4 separate regions of the Homo sapiens genome follow, and all the other regions are linked to region 2. Evidence: fine-mapped expression QTL. A gene starts in region 2. Each other region holds a variant in brackets. All regions are shown on one strand. Distances are from middle to middle.

Region 1 (5,000 bases), 61 kb before region 2:
CTCCCAAAATGCTGGGATTACAGACGTGAGCCACAGCACCCAGCCAAAGAACTAGAATTTAAAAAGCCCTTTAAAGACCAGGCATGGTGACTCACGCCTGTAATCCCAGCACTTTGGGAGGTCGAGGCGAGTGGATCACTTGAGCCCAGAAGTTCTAGAGCAGCCGGGGCAACATGGTGAAACCCCACCTCTACTAAAAATAGAAAAAAATAGCCAGGCATGGTGGCACACACCTGTGGTCCCAGGTACTTAGGAGGCTGAGGTAGGAGTGTCACCTGAGCCTGGGAGGTTGAGGCTGTGGTAAGCCACGATTATATCACTGCACTCCAGCCTGGGTGACAGAGTGAGACCCCGTCTCAATAAAAAAATAAAAATAAAAATAAAAAGCCCCTTAAAGAGAGGGAGAGCCTTTGTCTATTTTGTTCACTGTGTATCCCCGACCCTAGGAACAGGGTCTGCAGCATAGTAGATACACAATAAGCATTTCGCTAATGACTGAAGGGACAACATTCACAACCCTGTAAAGAAGCTAGCCATCAGGGTTCAGGTAAACAATCTAACATAATACGGAGAAACAGAAAAGAACTCTGCATTTAGTGAGGCATAATACCTGGTGAAAGTAATACACATGGCAAAGCTACTTCTCATTCATGATGATTTATTTTATAAAGCAAAGACACAATTGTACTGAGCTCCTGAGGACTTCTGGCTCTGTTGTCTTACAAGAGGCCACTCGTTCACTTGTTCAAAAATTGTCGGAATTTTTAGAAATGGAAAGAAGGACTCTAAAGTTACATATATCAAAACCTCTAAGTGTCTGTTATTAATAATAGTTCTTACCATCTTCCAGTTGCCTGTTAAGCACTGAGCACAGTAATCAGTGCATTGTATACTGGATACATAGAAGTTTTCCAAGCAGTGGCCTATGGACTCATGCTAGGCCATGATGAAACCCTTACTAGTCCATGGATACGTGAGAAAAAAACACTAGGGACTACAGAAAACTGATCTTTATTTTGGGATTAGGTCCTTCTTTCATTTTGAATGTTAAAATATCCTTTCTTTTATGAAATGCTAATAGATTTGTGGAGATATTGGTATAGGTTGTTTTTAAGATTTTTGCTTGGCAAAATAAAAGGTCGGGTCCTCAAAAAAAAAAAGAAAAAAAAAGAAAAAAAAAAGAAAAAGAAAAAGAAGTTCCTAGACTAGGACTTACAGATACATATTATCCCACTTACCCTTCATAGCAATCCTATGAACTAAGTATTAGTAATCCCCATTTTACAGATGAGAAAATTAAGGCTTAAGAGAAAGTAACTCGCCTTGGGTTATACAGCCGGCAGTGGTGGAGATGGGGTTTAGTGCAGGTGTTCAAATTCATTTTTTTTTTTTTCAGAGACACAGTTTCACATTGTTGCCCAGGCTGGAGTGCAGTGGCATGGTCATGGCTCACTGCAGCCTCGACCTCCTGGGCTCAAGTGCTCCTCCCACCTCAGTCTCCCAAATAGTTGGGACCAAAGGTGTGCACCACCACACCTGGCTAATTTTTAAATTTTTTTGTAGAGACACAGTCTCACTATGTTCCCCAGGCTGGTCTTGAACTCCTGGGCTCAAGCAATCCTCCCTCCTTGGTCTCCCAAAGCACTGGTTTTACAGGCGTGAGCCACCATGCCCAGCCTCAGGTCTCCAGCTTGAAAACACATTTTTTTTTGTCTACCATTCTACTGCCAGAAGACACCAGTCTGGTCCTAATACACTTAATGTCAGAAATACATTATTTAGAGAACTGGAAGAGAAGGGAATTAAAAAGCTGTCCTTTTTAATTAAAACTCCTGAGGTTTGTGTCTATTTTGTGAGATTTCACCTTTCTGGGGGCATATGTTTTCTAATCTGATAAGTAAAGTTTCCACTCTCAGTTGCTGGCTGTGGCTCTCCTGTCCTATGACTTCGCTAGATCACAGAAGGAAGGTGCTCTCTCCAAGAATTAAGGGAGTCCTGGAAACATCTGTCTTGGAACTGTCACTTATGGAGTCATATGACCTGGGACATCTCTCTGAGCTGTGGCTTCTGGTACGTAATTTGGAGAGAATAAGCCTTTTCCTGCCTGGCTGCAGGATTACTATATGGATCAAATACTTGGCATCGATCACCCCTCAGTAAATGTCTGATCAAAAGTAGATGTATGAATGAACTAATGCTATATATTACTGTTGCTGGAAAATGAAGTGTCTTATGTGATATATTAGTATTAGGTCATCAGCACTTCTCAGCATTGGATGATCATACAGGACGATCTTAAAGCCAGGACATCTGCAGAGTTAACAAAAGATTATATAACAGAATTATCTTTTTTTTTTTTTTTTGAGACAGAGTCTCACTCTGGAGTGCAGTGGCATGACATCTGCTCACTGTAACCTCCACCTCCTGGGTTCAAGCGATTCTCCTGCCTCAGCCACCCAAGTAGCTGGGATGTAGTTACAGGCATGCACCACCATGCCTGGCTAACCTTTGTATTTTTTGTGGAGACATGGTTTCACCACGTTGGCCAGTCTGGTCTCAAAACTCTTGATCTCAAGTGATCTGCTTACCTCAGCCTCCCAAGGTGCTGGGATTATAGGCGTGAGCCATCATGCCAGGCCTACAGAAATACGTCTATTGGTAGGGGAAATAGAAAGAATCAATGGAACACCTGTATGTACCTACTGTTCATCCTTATCCCACTTAAAAAATATATGTGCAATGGCAGAGTAATGGAATATTTTAAGACTTAGAAAGACTCTAGGCAACTTAGGCAAATGCTCTCATTTCACAAAAGATAATTAAATGGCTC[G/A]GAAGGTCCCATAGCTAATTAGAGGCAATAATGAGATTAGAACACCTATCTCCTAATTGCCACCTAGCCTAATGCTAAGATCACTCTACCACAGTATCAGTCCCCTTAGTTACTCGATGTCTAAGGTGGTCCATTATTGAACAATACAATTTTTTTTTTTTTCCGAGACAGAGTCTTGCTTTGTCACCCAGGCTGGAGTGCAGTGGCACGATCTTGGCTCACTGCAACCTCCACCACCCGGGTTCAAGCAGTTCTCCTCCCTCAGCCTCCCAAGTAGCTGCGATTACAGGCGCGCAGCATCACGCCTGGCTAATTTTTGTATTTTTAGTAGAGATGGGGTTTCACCATGTTGGCCAGGCTGGTCTAGAACTCCTGACTTCATGATCTGCCTGCCTCGGCCTCCCAAAGTGCTGGGATTACAGGTGTGAGCCACTGCGCCTGGCCGAACAATCCAATTTTTGACAAAGGTGTAGTATGTGATAAACTAGATATGCCAGAAAACTGAAATAACAATGAGACCTCAGTATGTGACATCACTGTGTACAGCAGGGTTTCATACCCTCAGCGCTATCGGGCTAGATAATTCTTTGTTGGGTGGGGGAACTATTCTGTGCATTGCAGGATATTTAGAAGCATCCCTGGCCTCTCCCGACTATATGTCAGTAGCATCCTATGGCTTTAACAACCAAAAATGTCTCCAAACTCCACCAAATGTCCCCTGGTGGTGGCAGCACGGGGCAACGGCCACTGGTTGAGAACCAATGGTGTAGAGGAAATATTTAAGTTGTCTGTACAACTGAGGAAGGATGGATGCAGTTGTACAATGTGGGGTAAGAGTGGTTAGAAGATAATTCATCCAGCTAGAGCTGGAGCTGCTGAGCTTTGACTGTATTGGTTGTTTTTGGTGGCAGAGTGACAATAACCTCTGGAGCAAGCTGGACTACAGAACTGGGGACCCACTTCAGGGGAGGCAGCCGGCTTTTCCTTTCAGGATGCTGCTAATCAGACACTTGGCAGTAGGGTGTGACATAAGGGGAAATGAGGATTTAACTCTGAGCTCAGAGCAAATACATCTAATTCTAAGAGTCTATTTAAGGAGAGCCATATCTATGAATGCTGTCAAGATTCACTCTAAACCATAGTTAGTATTTGTTTCATGGAATTAAAATGAGTTTCTTATTTTTGTGCAAACATGTACGTTAAGATCCTTTCCACTATTTAGTCATACATTTAGTTCTTTGGTGATTTTTAAAAGCTGTCCTTTTCATCACTTATGAGCATGGTTTTAGAAAGAAAAATCCACCCCCAACATTTCTCACCTCCTCTTATGAGAAATTATTCTTTTTTAGTTCTACCTCTGGAAGTACATTCTCATGAGGTATGTGCCACAACTCTGTATCTGCCACTATGGCAACTCATAAAAAATGCCACCCCCTTAAATTCCTTCATGGCATATTAATTTGATGTTCTAAAACAAACACTTTACTGTGAATTAACTCCTAACCGATAATATTAACCCAACTAAACTGGCTTCTGTAACACTTTCACCATCTGTAAGAATGTTTCTTGTGCAAATAAAGGCGATCTTTTGTTACTTAGCCATTAAATTTCATTAAAATATTTTCTGCTTAAATCCACTAAATCACTAATATTCAAAATACAACAATATAGTTACCAAGTTTGACTCCATGAATGAGAATATTCATTCACCAAATGCATTAGATAAGCTGTGTAAGAGGAGATTCCCTGCAAGATTGTTTATGAGTAAAAACATGGGTCAATCTAAACATCCATCAATAGACATCTCGTTAAATAAACTATGATCCAATCATACAATGGGATACTATGCAGACAGTAAAAATATGAGAGAGCTACATGTACCAACATGGCAAGCTGCCTTATTATAGCAATAAGTGAAAAAAGGGCAAGATGCAAGATAATATTTTGGTAAAATTCCATTGGTATTTAGAAAAAAAGATATACGTGCTGTTTGTGTGTGTACAATATACACATGTACATATGTATGTATGTCTATCTATATTTATGTATATAGATCTGTAGGTGTGTATATGGAAGGATACACAAAAGTTATCTACAATAATTACTTCTGGGGAGAAGCATGAAGACCTAGGACTTTTACGTTTCTTTTTTTTTTGAGATGGAGTCTTGC
Region 2 (5,220 bases):
GCAGTGAGCCGAGATCGCACTACTGCACTCCAGTTTGGGTGACAGAACAAAGACTCTGCCTCAAAAAAAAAAAAAAAAAACCCCAAAATATATTTCTTTGACATATTTTAAAATGGCCCTACAAAGCTACAAAGCTGTCTTTTGTAACAGAAATTTGCATCTGTAGAGAATCTCCATTAATGCAGCCAGGATTTCCTTTTCTAGGCCTTTCCCAGATCCAGGAAAGATTAATTCTGACACCTAAATTTCCAAAAAGAGACATTTACCATCTATTCTCTCTTTTTTGTTTTTTTTTTTTTTGAGATGGAGTCTCACTCTGTCATCCAGGCTAGAGTGCAGTAGTGCGATCTCAGCTCACTGCAACCTTTGTCTCCTGGGTTCAAGCAATTCTTGTGTCTCAGCCTTCCAAGTAGCTGGGATTACAGGCGCACGCCACCGTGCCTGGCTAATTTTTTTATTTTTCGTAGAGATGGTGTTTCATCATGTTGGCCAGGCTGGTCTTGAACTCCTGACCTCAAGTGATCTGCCTGCCACGGCCTCACAAAGCGTTGAGATTACAGGTGTGAGCCATGGAGCCCAGCCCATCTCTAGTCATGGCACCTAGCCCATCTATTCTCTGAGGCTGCTACTCACACTTCATCTACGTAACAAGGACCTTGAACCACACAACTCCCTTATCTTAGTTCAAGCATTCTTTTCTACTGACTTCAAGTCTTTAGACAAAGCTTAACTCTCTCAAGCAACTGTCAGCTAAAGAATCCCTAAAATCCACCTAAGACTTCTAAGACCACCCTTGGACATATCCACCTTTTTGGGTCTAACCAATGTATACCTTCCATGTATTGATTTATGTCTTTGCCTGTTAACTCCTGTCTCCCTAAAATGTAAAAAAAACAAACTATAACCCAACTGCCTCGGGATCACTTACTAAAGACTTTTTGGGTTTGTGTTTTCTCTCTGGGCGATGGTCAATCATACTGGCTCAGAATAAACCGCTTTAAAATAGTTTACAGAGTTTTATTTATTTGCTAACAGTCTGACACATGATACAAAGACAAGCTTTGAAAATATTATACATAGTATAAGAAGATAGCCGGGCGTGGTGGCTCACACCTGTAATCTCAGCACTTTGAGAGGCTGAGGCAGGTTGATCAAGAGCTGAGGAGTTCAAGACCAGCCTGGCCAAGATGGTGAAACCTCGTCTCTACTAAAAATACAAAAATTAGTCGAACGTGGTGGCAGGCGCCTGTAGTCCCAGCTACTCGGGAGGCTCAGGCAGGAGACTAGCTTGAACCTGGGCAGCAGAGGTTGCAGTGAGCCAAGATCGTGCCACTATACTCCAGCCTGGGCTACAGAGTGAGAGTCATGAGACTCCGTTTAAAAAAAGAACAAAAGTCATGAAAGAAGCTAGTCACAAAAACATTGACATTATACTTAATGAAAGAAGCCAGCTGCACTGTATGATTTCATTTATATCAAACGTGCGAATTGGCAAGGCTATACAGACAGAAAGTATACTAGCAATTGTCTAGGACTTGAGGCGGAGTGGACGTGGTGAATGTAGAATGACTGCTACTGGAGGCAGGATTTTTCTTTGGAGTGATGAAAGTATTCTAAAATGAGATCACAGTAATAGATGCACAATTCTGTCAACAACAACAAAAAAACCCTTAATGTTACCCTTTATTATTTATTTTTGGGTACGTTGTCTTGCTCTGTCTTCCAGGCTGGAGTGCAGTGGCGCGATCTGGGCTCACTGCAGCCTGGAACTCCGGGGCACAAGCGATTCTCCCACCTCAGTCTCCTGAGCAGCTGGAACTACAGGCGAATGCCACTATGCTAGGCTTGATTTTTTTTTACGCTTTAAATGGGCAAATTTTACTTAGTAGGTGAATAGAAATTTCCCAAGAAAGCTGTTTTTTTGTTTGTTGGTTTTTTAGCAGAACCTCCTGAAGTGGCAGGTCACTGAAAAAATTTAAAAAAAAACAACAAAACCGAAGCTTATCCATACTCACTATCCACAAATTCCCAAAATTCCCCAAAGCACAGGCTGCAGACACCGTGTGTTGGGGCGGAAGGGGCGGGGAGCTAGCAGGAAATCCTGACATGCCTAGGAAAGCCTCCATAACTTCCTAATTGAGAGAGAACGATCAGATGCATTGCTGTGACCCCCGCCCCCACCACTCCAACCCCCCCCCATCCCATCCCGCGCTTACCTCTCCTCCAAAGCACTCCAGAAAACTGAGGAGAAAAGCCGCCAAGCCCCCCGACACACTCACCATCCGCAACCGGAACGCGGAAGCAATGGCGCCATCTTTTTTATGGGAAATGTGAGGTTCGAAGGAAGTCACCGGAGCCATCCTTACTGCGGGCAGTGAAGGGCAATGGAAGCCGGTCGCGGCCATGTTGACTGAGGCTTTTGGCCTGTCAATGAGGCTTGCCACATGTGGCTATTTTGGGCAATTTCCTGAGGAGGCTTGTCGATAAATGTGCTTGGTAAACCCTAAGGGAACAGAAAAAATATTCAAAAATTTAAATGTTGGCCGGGAGCGGTGGCTTACGCCTGTAGTCCCAGCACTTTGGGAGGCTGAGACGGATCACTTGAGGCCAGGAGTTTGAGACCAGCCTGGGCAACATAGGGAGACACTGTCTCTACAAAAAAAATTTTTTTTTAATTAGCGAGGCATGGTGGCACATGTCTGTAGGCCCAGGTAGTTGGGGGGCTGAGGTGGGAGAATTGCTTGAGCCTGAGAGGTCAAGGCTGCAGTTGGCCATGTTCTTGCCACTGCAGTCCAGCCTGGGCAACAGAGCTAGACCTTGCCTTTTAAAAAAAAAAATTCGTCTGGGCTCAGTGGCTCACGCCTGTAATCCCAGCACTTTGGTAGGCCGAGGCAGGAGGATCACCTGAGGTCGGGAGTTCGAGACCAGCCTTACCAACAGAGAAACCCTGTCTCTACTAAAAATACAAAATTAGCTGGGTGTGGTGGTGCAGCCTGTAATCGCAGCTACCCGGGAGACTAAGGCAGGAGAATCGCTTGAACCCAGAAGGTGGAGGTTGTGGTGAGCCAAGATCGTGCCATTGCACTCCAGCCTGGGCAACGAGAGCGAAACTCCGTCTCAAAAAAAAAAATAAATAAAATTCAATGTCTTGGAGAGGGTGGGGTGGCATGCCCCTGTAATCCCACTGCTTTGGGAGGCCAAGATGGGAGGATTACTTGAGGCAAGGAGTTCAAGACCCACCTGGGCAACACAGTGGAGACCTTGTCTCTACAAAATGGTTTTGTTTTTTTTTTTTTGAGACGGAGTCTCGCTCTGTTGCCCAGGCTGGAGTGCGGTGGCGCCATCTCGGCTCACTGCAAGCTCCGCCTCCCGGGTTCACGCCATTCTCCTGCCTCAGCCTCCCAAGTAGCTGGGACTACAGGCGCCCGCTACCACGCCCGGCTAATTTTTTGTATTTTTAGTAGAGACGGGGTTTCACCGTGTTAGCCAGGATGGTCTCGATCTCCTGGCCTCGTGATCCGCCTGCCTGGGCCTCCCAAAGTGCTGGGATTACAGGCGTGAGCCACCGTGCCCGGCCTACAAAATGGTTTTAATAAATAAATAAATAAACTTGAATGTCTACATTTTAAAAATATGAAAAGTAGAAATTAAAGATGAGGATGAAAATATTGTAATATTCTGATGCATGCAGATAACTACATAACTGCCACAACTGCAGGACCACAAAAAAGAGACTGTCTAAAGACAAAATTACAAAATTAAGATTTAGCTTAAAGATCTAATTGGCTTTTGTTTACAATTCTAGAATCAGGCAGCATCTCATTCTATAAGATTGAATGTTCCAATGAGCTGAGCAGACAAGGTTAGCTTCATAGGCAGAAAAGGGGCTAAAGAATGCAGAAAGAGATTTGAACAAAAAGCAAATTGATCGTCCTTTTTTTTTTCTTTTTTTTTTTGAGACAGTCTTACTCTGTCGTCCAGGCTGGAGTGTCCTGGTGCGATCTCAACTTCCATCTCCTGAGTTAAAGTGATTCTTGTGTGTCAGCCTCCCTAGTACCTGGATCACAGGCGTGCACCACCATGCCCGGCTAATTTTTGTATTTCTAGTAGAGACAGGGTTTTGCCATGTTGGCCAGACTAGTCTTGAACTCCTGATCTCAAGTGATTTTCCCGCCTGGGCCTCCCAAAGTGCTGTGATTACAGCCATGAGCCACCGCACCCGGCCCTGCAAATTGATCATTTCAAAGTTACTTTCCTTGTAGGGTTAAAACAGAGAAGACTTCCTTATTATATTTACTCAGATTGACTGGAATCTCCCGTTTTCTGGAAGATGGGCTTGTTTCAAAGTTCAGTTTGATTACATGGCACTTAGCACAAGTAACTCAGTTCTGATTTGGCCTGGCCTGCTGGGGCCTAGTGGAGGAGGTCAGACCAAATCAATTGCCTCTTATAAAATTTAACAAAACTGAGGGCTCTTTTCCCCTTTCACCATTTTCTTGAAAGAGTAGTGTATACTCATAGCCTCCTATCGATGCCTAAATTGGAATAATAACCCATAAATTAGGAGTCCTGGACTTAAGATAAATATTTTACCTATACACTATTTTCTTTTCCTTTTATTTATTTATTTATTTATTTATTTTTTGGAGATGGAGTCTCACTGTGTCGCCCAGGCTGGAGTGCAGTGGCGCGATCTTGGCTCACTGCAACCTCTGCCTCCCGGGTTCAAGCAATTCTCCTGCCTCAGCCTCCTGAGCAGCTGGGATTACAGGCATGTGCCACCATGCCCAGCTAATTTTTTTATTTTTAGTAGAGATGGGTTTTCACCATGTTGGTCAGGCTGGTCTCGAACTCCAGACCTCAGATGATCCGCCACCTTGGCCTCCCAAAGTGCTGGGATTACAGGTGTGAGCCACCATGCCCGGACTTTCTTTTCCTTAAATACTCCATGCTTGCCTTCTCTCAATTCTGAGCTCTTCCCCCATGCAATTTCTTCCCTTACGAACACTCTTCTCTCTTCTTTGATGTTTATCTTCCTTACAATCTCAGCTTTAACCAATTTTTCCTCCAGGAACCTTCTCTGACTTATCTGAAAAGAGTTAGTGGTCCCTTGCAAGAATAGCTCACTTTCCTCTGTTTACCCAGATTGCTCTAAACTCCTTTGTCCTTTCTGCTTTTCCCACCAAACTGTAAGTATCTCAAAGGCAAAGACCACGTTTA
Region 3 (5,000 bases), 28 kb before region 2:
TTACCCATCTTTACATACTCATACTGGAATGACTAAGGCTTTTGAGGTTTTTCTAACACTCTCAGATTCTTATCAGCCCAGTAGTTTTCTGGAAAGTGCTCTTAAGTCTCATGTCCTTGCTACTAATTTGCTCCTCCAGAGTATGAACAGTGATGCGGCAGTTGGGCACATAGCAAAAGGACAGAGAAGCGTCCATCCAGTTTGGCTCCTAGGGAAGATCATTGGCATCTGAGTAAGGGCAGGCTTAGTCCAGAGGGGAATGGAGGTAGAGGCCATGTGCCTGGGAATGAGGAGCAATCCTGAGATGAAGAAGTGAGGAGGAAGGCAGGCAGCCCCTTCAAAAAGCCTGGCTGGGAAAAGCAGGGCAGGGATAGGCCCATGGTCAGGGGCAGCTGCAAGGTGAAATGGGGAATCCTTTACACAAGTTAAGCCTAAGCCTGGGCCCATGTTCTTGTAACTGGGTTTTGCAGCGGTCCTTGCTATATCCTAAATCTAAGGTCACCCTTCCTTGGCCTACTACTCTTCCAGGGGTTAGAACTGTGACACTGACTCCAACCTGGAAGCTGGGACCTTGCTACTCACTGAGAAGGCACCTGCACACTGCCTGCCACCTGCCTGGATTTCTGGGTATTCTCTCCAGCGTGCCTGTTGCTGGGCTGTGCTGTGCCACCAGAAGACTACGCCACGCCTCCACTGTGAACCCCAACCCCTTGCCAACTCTGTGTCTGGATTTTGACTGAAGAATTTGATAACAGATGATATGACTGAACTCTTACAGTCAAGCCGGGTGCACTGGCTCACACCTGTAATTCAGCACTTTGGGAGGCTGAGGTGGGCAAATCACTTGAGGCCAGGAGTTTGAGACCAGACTGGCCAACATGGCAAAACCTTGTCTCCACTAAAAATACAAAAATTAGCTGGGTGTGGTGGTGCACCCCTGTAATCCCAGCTACTAGGGAGGCTGAGGCATGAGAATCACTTGAGCCTGGGAAGCAGAGGTTGCAGTGAGCTGAGATTGCACCACTGCACTCCAGCCTGGGTGACAGAGCAAGACTCTGTCTCCAAAAAAAAAAAAAAAAAAAAAAACAGAAATTGTAAAAACTATGCCAAGTTAATGAATCCTAATGACCAAAGCTTGGCTCTATTTCACCCAGTAGCTGGGGGAGCCAGGTCCCAAGTTCACCCTTAGACCCCCCATTCAGCTGTAAGCAACCTGCCATACTCTGCCAGTTCTTGAGATAGTCAACTCTATTTTGAGCCAAGCACAAGCTACATGAAGGTAGCCAACAGTGTGTGCCTCACTGAGTAAATACCAGGATGGGCAGAGACCAATGGTGAGTCACCCTGAATGACCCTCCAACTGGAAACCTTGGCTATATTTCCCAATCCCTGGAAGATCAACTTCCTTACAACACATAACAGCAAGTAAGCAAGAGAGAACATCAAACTGGCTTGGGAACTGGAGGTGTTAAGAATCTGAGATAGAATGGTGGCCCAGTAGAGATTAGTGTAAAGGTGGGCATGTCTCTGAGCAAACAATAGATCCAGAGTCATCAGAATTAGATTAAAATGTCGGCAAGAGCCTCCTGAAGGGCCATGGGGAGAGAACCCGTAACTACAGCTACCTATGAACAAGAGGCATGGAAAAGAAAATGGACTCAACTTATAAATGAAAAACCCAGGCCCCTGGACAATTCTGAAACTTAAGGTGGAAAATGGTTAGGTCGGAGTAAACCAGGTTGGGCTGTTAGGGCAGTGACCTCCTTCAGAGTTTAAGGCTGTCACCTCAAGTTCATTGCTTGGTAACAGCAAGATTACCAGTGATAACCTCTCCTAACTGACTTTTTTTTTTTTTTTTAGACAGAGTCTCACTCTGTTGCCCAGACTAGAGTGCAGTAGTGTCATCTTGGCTCACTGCAGCCTCCACCTCCCAGGTTCAAGTGATTCTCATGCCTCAGCCTCCCAGTAGCTGGGATTACAGGTGCCCACCACCATGCCTGGCTGATTTTTGTATTTTTAGTAGAGATGAGATTTCACCATGTTGTCCAGGCTGGTCTTGAATTTCTGGCCTCAAGCGATACACCTGCTTCGCCCTCCCAAAGTGCTGGGATTACAGGCATGAGCCACTGCATC[T/C]GGCCTCCTAACTGACTTTTGTAGATAATTTCTCACAAAAGGTAGCTCTGGAATGTTTACAGAAAAATCAACAGCCTTCCATGCTGTGTAAAAGTCTCCTAGTGATGTTAAAATGAAGTTCTCTTTGTGATAGATAAACCTGAGCACGTTTATTTCTGCTTAGGGTGATCTACTAGAGATGGTGTTATTAAATAACAGAACGGCTGGGCTTCCATTTGATTCTAGTGTATTCCCTGCTCCTGTCATGGCTGAAAGATACCATTCTCACTTAGTTCTTGGGAAGCTCTGGGTGATCTGGTCCTTATTTTTTTTTTTTTTTTTGACAAGGTCTTGCTCTGTCGCCCAGGTTGGGGTGCAGTAGCACGATCATGGCTCACTGCAACCTCCACCTCCCAGGCTCAAGTGATTCTCCCACCTCAGCCTCCAGAGTAGCTGGAACCACAGGTGTGTACCACCACACCCGGCTAATTTTTAAATTTTTTTTTAGTAGAGACAGGGTTTTGCTACGTTGTCCAGGCTGGTCTCAAACTCCTGAACTCAAGGGATCCTCTCAAGCGGATCACAAGGTCAGGAGATCGAGACCATCCTGGCTAACACGGTGAAACCTCATCTCTACTAAAAATACAAAAAAAAAAAAAAAAACTAGCCAGGCATGGTGGTGGGCACCTGTAGTCCTAGCTACTTGGGAGGCTGACGCAGGAGAATGGCGTGAACCCAGGAGGCGGAGCTTGCAGTGAGCCGAGATCGCGCCACTGCACTCCAGCCTGGGCGACAGAACGAGACTCTGTCTCAAAAAAAAAAAAAAAAAAAAGAAAAAGGGATCCTCCTGCCTCAGCCTCATAATATACCAGATATGCCAGATAACAGGCATGAGCCACCACTCACAGCCCTGGTCCTTTTTAAAAACAAACCTAGTGGGTATTGTGGCAAAACATATAAAAGTACTACAGAATTGCAGAGTGCACAGCAAAATAAAAATTGTTTTAAAATGTTTAAGTTTGAATAAAATAGTATCAAAAAGTTAATATTCCTCCCTAAAACTCCTTCCACCTCTCCAAAGTGTTTGTTCTATCAAGTTAACAAAACTTGCCTAAATTTATTTGCAGCAGTTCCTTGTCTCAGTGGTATCATCCTCTTGGTCACTTCCCAGGTTAGAAAAAGCTTTCTTTTTCTTCCAATAACAATGTGATTTTAGCTGGGTGTGGTGGCTCATGCCTGTAATCCCAACACTGAGAGGTTGAGGCGGGAGGATCGCTTGGGCCCAGGAGTTCAAGACCAGCCTGGGCAACATAGTGAGATCTCATCTCTAAACAAAAAAAAAAAATAAAATTTTTTTTAATTAGCTAGGCAGGATAACACACGCCTATAGTCTTAACTACTTCAGAGGCTGAGAAGGGAAGATTGCTTGAGTCCAGGGGAACCACAATACTGCACTTCAGCCTGGGCAACAAAGCAGGATCATACCTCGAAAAAGAAAAAAAAAGTGAAACATTTCCTTTGGATTCAGTCAGCTCTGTCATTTGCTAAGTGACACTGGGAAAGTTTCCTAACTTTTCCAAGTTTGTTTCCTCACTTATTAAATGGGAATGATTTCCACTTCTCAGGTATGTGATAAGAATTAAAAGTGGTGATGTTTGGGCTGGGTGTGGTGGCTCACACCTGTAATCCCAACACTTTGGGAGGCTGAGGCAGGTGGATCACTTGAGGTCAGGAGTTCAAGACCAGCCTTGCCAACATGGTGAAACCTCATCTCTACTAAAAATATAAATATTAGCTGGGCATGGTGGTGCACGCCTGTAATCCCAGCTACTCAGGAGGCTGAGGCAGGAGAATTGCTTTAACCAGGGAGGTGGAGGTTGCAGTGAGCCGAGATTGTGCCACTGCACTCAGCCTGGGCAACAGAGTGAGACTCTGTCTTGAAAAGAAAAAAAAAAAGTGATGATGTTTGTGAAATATTTAGCATGGAGCCTGACAGTATAAAACCTGACAGGTAGTAAATGCTCAATAAATGGGAGTGATCACTATTAATGTGCCCTAAAACACTGCAGTGTGGAGTATGCAGAGAGCAATTATCACACCCAGAGCCTTCCATGGGGTAGGATGAGTAAACCAATGTGAATGCTTTTTTTTTATGCTTACTTATTTATTATTATTATTATTTTTGAGTCGGAGTCTTGCTCTGTTGCCGGGGCTGGAGTGCAATGGTGCGGTCTTGGCTCACTACAACCTCCACCTCCTGGGTTCAAGTGATTCTCCTGCCTCAGGCCCCCGAGTATCTGGGATTACAGGCGCCTGCCACCACGCCCGGCTAATTTTTGTATTTTTATTAGAGACAGGGTTTTACCATGTTGGCCAGGCTGGTCTAGAACCCCTGACCTCAGGCGATGCACCCGCCTCGGCCTCCCAAAGTGCTGGGATTACAGGCATGAGCCACTGTGCCCAGCTAGAGGTAATTAAGTTTTGAGGGTGGAAGCCTCATGATGGCATTAGTGCCCTTATAAGAGACATGAGAAAGAGGCTCTCTCTCTAGGCCATATGAGGACACAGGAAGACGGTGGCTGTCTACAAATCAAGAACAGGGACAGCACCAGACACCAAATCTGCTGGCACCTTGACCTTAGACTTTCCAGCCTCTGGAGCTGTGAGAAGCCACCCAGTGTATGGTATTTGTGATAAAAGCCTGAGCTGGCTGGGCGCAGTGGCTCACGCCTGTAATCCCAGAGCAGTGGCTCATGCCTGGGATGACCACAGCGGGTGGATCACTTGAGGTCAGGAGTTCAAGACCAGCCTGGCCAACATGGTGAACCCCGTCTCTACTAAAAACACAAAAATTAGCCAGGTGTGGTTGCGCTCACCTGTAATTCCAG
Region 4 (5,000 bases), 72 kb before region 2:
AGAACATTCCAGACTAAGGGACCAGCAAGTGCAAAATCCCGGAGGTGGGAGTGAGCTTATGTGTGAAGACCAGAAAGAAGGCCAGTGCGGCTGGGAAGAGGTGGGAGAAGCAGTCACAGCCAGGCAGGGAGAAGCCAGATCCTGTGGGGCCCAGAGAGCTGATGGAGCAGCTTGGATTGTGTCCTAAGCGCACTGAAAGGTTTTAAGCAGGTGGAAGTGACATTCTGGTGCTGCTGCTGGAAAGGAGACCAAGGAGGGCAAGCATGGGACTGGAGCCCAGGTACGAGGCTACTGCAGGAGTTGTGGAAGATGGTGGCTGGGGTTTGGGTAGAGTGGAGGAGGTGGTGAGACATTACTCTATTTGGAACACATTCTAGAGGTGGCCTATGGGGACAGATGCAGGCAGTGGAGGAAGCTTGCCCATGCAACCCAGGATGGCTTTGAATGCAGCCCAACACAACTGTGTAAACTTTCTTAGAACATTATGAGATTTTTGGCTGGGCGCGGTGACTCATGCCTGTAATCCCAACAGTGTGGGAGGCTGAGGTGGGCAGATCACTTGAGGACAGGAGTTCGAGACCAGCCTGGCCAACATGGTGAAACCCTGTCTCTACTAAAAATACAAAAATTAACTGGGTGTGGTGGCGGGCGCCTGTAATCCCAGCTACTAGGAAGGCTGAGGCAGGAAAATTGCTTGAACCCAGGAGGCAGAGGTTATAGTGAGCTGAGATCGCGTCATTACACTCCGGCCTGGTGACAACAGCAAAACTCCATCTCAAAAAAAAAAAAACAAAAAACAACAAAAAACAAGTCTATGCTAGACCAGGCACTATGACTCATGCCTTTGGGAAGCCGAGTCAGGTGGATCACTTGAGGTCAGGAGTTTGAGACCAATCTGGCCAACATGCCAAAATCCTGTCTCTACAAAAAAATACAAAAGGGACTGAAGGCAGAGGGGTGGAGGGAAGAGGCCTGAGGCCTGAGGTCAGTAAGAAGTGCCTTGAAGAGCCAGCAGAGGAGGATGAGAAACAGCAGCCAGTGAGGGCAGGAGGAGAAGCTGAGGGAGGGGTCCCAGGAGCCAAGGGAAGAACAGGTATCCGGGAAGGGGGGGATCAACAGTGTAAAACGCTGCTGCTTGGTCAAATACAAAGGACTGGGAACCGACCACTGGATTTGGAAGGACAAAAGACACCACAGTTCCATAACAATAGCAGTGGTGGAGTATATATGGGGGTGGGGGCGGGGTGGGGGAGGGAAGGCAAAAGTGTGACTGGAGTGGGTTGGAGAGAAATCGGGAAGGTAAGAGGTGGAGAGAGTGAGTATAGACAAATAAGACACATCTTTCATAGCCTTCTGCTATAAAAAGGAACAGAGAAACAGGGCAGGACCTAAAGAGGAACCTGGGGTCATGGATTTTTTTTTTTAGATGGGAAATATTACATCATCTTTGTATGTAGCCAAGAATGAGCCAGTCAAGAGAGAAAGATTGATAATGCAGGAGTGAGGGGTTAACGGTGGGTGTGAAGTCCATGACTAGGAGAGAGGAGATGAAGATTAAGTGGAGGGGCTGGCCTTAAGCAGGGCATAAACAACTCACCCACTGTAACAGTCTTCTTGGTGGCTGCTCCCTGCTTCTCAGGTACGATAAGGAACCACACAATTTGTCTCACTGCTGGGACTTAGGGACACAAGCACACACACTCACACACATGCACACAACAAAGCAACACAGCTCTGAGCACTCACTTTATTCATTTATTTATTTTTAATTAATTAATTTTTTTGAGATAGAGTCTCACTCTGTAGCCCAGGCTGGAGTGCAGTGGTGCGATCTTGGTTCACTGCAGCCTCTGCCTCCCAGGTTCAAGTGATTCTCCTGCCTCAGCCTCCCAAGTAGCTGGCACTACAGGCACCCGTCACCACGCCCGGCTAATTTTCTGTATTTTTAGTAGAGATGGGGTTTCATCGTGTTGGCTGGGCTGGTGTCAAACTCCTGACCTCAGGTGATCTGCCCGCCTTGGGCTCCCAAAGTGCTGGGATTACAGGCATGAGCCACCATGCCTGGCTTTGAGCACTTACTTTAAATCTCTCAAGAAAATTAAATTAAATGAACAACTGAAGCAGTAAATGTTAGTTCACCTGAGTCAACACAAAGAACTTTTAGTTAATAAACTTTGCCTGGCCAGTCACCTATGAGGTAGCCAGCATCCAGGATGGCTCCTCACCTCCTAGCACTCACACCCTCAGGTGGTCCCCTTGCATGTGGTCCCAGGGTTGGTCTGTATGACTGTCGAGTGCAGCAGAGGAGATGGCCCATCATGTCTGAGATGAGATCATGAAAGACTCCAGGGCTTCTGTTTGGCTGTCTCCCTCTCTCACGACTCACTGTGGGGAAGCTGACTGCCACAGTTCAAGGACACTCAGCAGCCCTGGGAGAGGCCCATGTGGAGAAAAACTGAAAACTCCAGCCAAGC[A/G]TCCGGTGGCAGTCTTCTCTGAAGCAGCTCTTCCAGCTCCAGGGAAGGTTTCACTTGGCGGCCACCTCATGACAGACCCTGAGCCAGAACTACCCTATTAAGCCCCTCCTGGATTTCTGATCCTCAGAAACTCTGATATGATCGATGTTTGAGTTTTCCAGAAATTTGTTATTACTCCCAGCTGATAACTAAATTCCCTATCCCTCAATATCCAGTATACTATAATCAAGTTTTTTTGTTTTGTTTTGTTTTGTTTTGAGATAGAGTCATGCTCTGTCACCCAGGCTGGAGTGCAGTGGTGTGATCTCAGCTCACTGCAACCTCCGCCTCCTGGTTCAAGCGATTCTCGTGCCTCAACCTCCTGAGCAGCTGGGATTATAGGTGCACACCACCACGCCCGGCTGATTTTTGTATTTTTAGTAGAAACGGGGTTTCACCATGTTGGCCAGTCTGGTCTCGAACTCCTGACCTCAGGTGATCCGCCCACCTCAGCCTCCCAAAGTGCTGGGATTATAGGCGTGAGCCACCACCACGCCCAGCCTTAATAAGTTTAAACAAACTATATTTTACAGGCTAAAAAAATGTTGGTCACAGACTTCCAGGCAATTTTTAAAGCCCCATGTTTAATATATTTGTCATTGATGGATCTATAAATTTTTATTTTCTCAGTTGATTAAGCACAGATATTAAAAGATTTTCCACAGGACTAGAAGTTGCTGCCTTAACATCCAATACTTAAGCAAACCGTGGATATCAAAGAAGGACTGGGAAGCTCTTTATTTTATGGGACTTTAGGGGAACTGCCTTCCCAGCAGGCTCTTCCTGAGCAGTCTGCTGGAAATTCTTTGTGTAGCTCTAAGACAGCCTAGATCTAGGACAATATATCAGGTTTTTAGGTAACAGCCTGGTTGGCTTTGTCATCCCTGGTCTCTTTCTCCAGAACACTGTAAATCAAAGGCCCAAGCTAAAGCTTGTACATCAAACCTAGAGACAAAAAGGAGAAAAGATCAAAGGAGACATAAATAAAACTTTTCCCTGTGAGACAGTATGGCAGCAGGCTAGGCCATCATTTAATATCAGTCTGAAATAATATTTTCCCTTCTTCACTTTGTGAACTTTGCCTGGTCTTTCACAACTATCCTTTTTTAAACCTTCTCATGTCAAACAACTCTGAGTTTGCCTGGTGAAAATGTCACTGTGGAAGAATTTCTTTTAATCTGAACATCTTGGAGGCTGGTTTCTTGGGTGTTCTATCACTGGGTGGTGAACTTCAAGAGGGCAGACACTGCCTTTAATTCACACTTCATCCCCAGGGGCTAGCACAGTGTCCAGCACATAGCAGCTGCTCATTGAATTTTTGCTGAATAAAGGCACTGAATTTGCTTTCCGTCTCTGAAGATCTACCAAATACTCTTTTGTATCCGTTGAGTATCCGTTGAGTGTTTATTGGCGTAGCATGGTGCAGGGAACCATCAGGGACATGAAGCTGAATGTGACATATATTTGAAGCATTTAATAAGACTGGCTGGGCATGGTGGCTCACGCCTATAATCCCAGCACTTTGGGAGGCCGAGGTGGGCGGATCACCTGAGGTCAGGAGACAAGCCTGGACAACCAACATGGTGAAACCTTGTCTCTACTAAAAATAGAAAAATCAGCCAGGCATGGTGGCACACGCCTGTAATCCCAGCTACTGGGGAGGCTGAGGCGGGATAATCACTTGAACCCAGGAGATGGAGGTTGCAGTGAGCTGAGATCACAGCACTGCACTCCAGCCTGTCTGGGCGACAGAGCAAGACTCCTTCTAAAAACAAAACAAAAAACAAAAAAAAAACACTGTCAAGTCCTCATTATGTATCCACCAGAACTCAGTAATTTTTTAGGCACAACACAAAGGTGTGGCTGTCTTAGCAAGTTACATGATGATTTTATTGTTGTTGTTTTTAAGAGACTGGGTCTCACGCTGTCATTCAGGCTGGAGTGCAGTTGCACCATCATGGCTCACTGCAGCCCTGGCTTCCTGGGCTCAAGCCATCCTCCTGCCTCAACCTCCCAAGTAGCTAGGACTAAAGGTGTACTCCACCATGCCTGGCTAATTTTTTTATTTTTTGTAGAAACAGGGTCTTGCTGTGTTGCCCAGGCTGGTCTCGAACTCCTGACCTCAAAGGATCCTCCTGTCTCAGCCTCCCAAAGTGCTGGGATTACAGATGTGAACCACCATGACTGGCCTACATGATGTTTTAATATGACAACAGCCAACATGACAATAGTCGGTGTTGTTCCTACAGTGCATGAAATCAGTAAGCATTCATTGAGTACTTCTTATATGTGATGAAAGTGAAGCAATTACAAAGGCAAACATTACAGTTAATAAGCAAAGTTTGGAATGAGAAATAACAGATAAGGGTAAGAGTGTGGTCACACCAGATCAATCTGGTTCAACTTTTACGTAACAAAGTTGTGAGTTGTTTTTCAGTTGTCACGGACCCTCAGGTCTCATAACCTGAGCATGCCCAGATGAACCAA

Evidence for each region.
Region 1: its variant is fine-mapped to the expression of SHLD1 in whole blood (INTERVAL, PIP 0.96).
Region 3: its variant is fine-mapped to the expression of SHLD1 in whole blood (TOPMed, PIP above 0.99).
Region 4: its variant is fine-mapped to the expression of SHLD1 in whole blood (TOPMed, PIP above 0.99).

What each region holds. Positions count from the first base shown.
Region 1 is chr20:5,808,251-5,813,250 of GRCh38, reverse strand. All of the region lies in intron 2 of SHLD1 (shieldin complex subunit 1), which reads right to left. Among named protein-coding and RNA genes, the nearest start is that of SHLD1, 60 kb to the right of the region's middle. The variant G/A (reference allele first, on the strand shown) is at 2,831.
Region 2 is chr20:5,747,476-5,752,695 of GRCh38, reverse strand. SHLD1 (shieldin complex subunit 1) reads right to left here and starts at 2,295. Exons shown (of 3, transcript NM_152504.4): 1 at 2,217-2,295. RefSeq lists an enhancer at 2,420-2,469.
Region 3 is chr20:5,776,059-5,781,058 of GRCh38, reverse strand. The region is part of intron 2 of SHLD1 (shieldin complex subunit 1); the gene reads right to left. Among named protein-coding and RNA genes, the nearest start is that of SHLD1, 28 kb to the right of the region's middle. The variant T/C (reference allele first, on the strand shown) is at 2,134.
Region 4 is chr20:5,819,243-5,824,242 of GRCh38, reverse strand. The region is part of intron 2 of SHLD1 (shieldin complex subunit 1); the gene reads right to left. Among named protein-coding and RNA genes, the nearest start is that of SHLD1, 71 kb to the right of the region's middle. RefSeq lists an enhancer at 1,276-1,415. The variant A/G (reference allele first, on the strand shown) is at 2,475.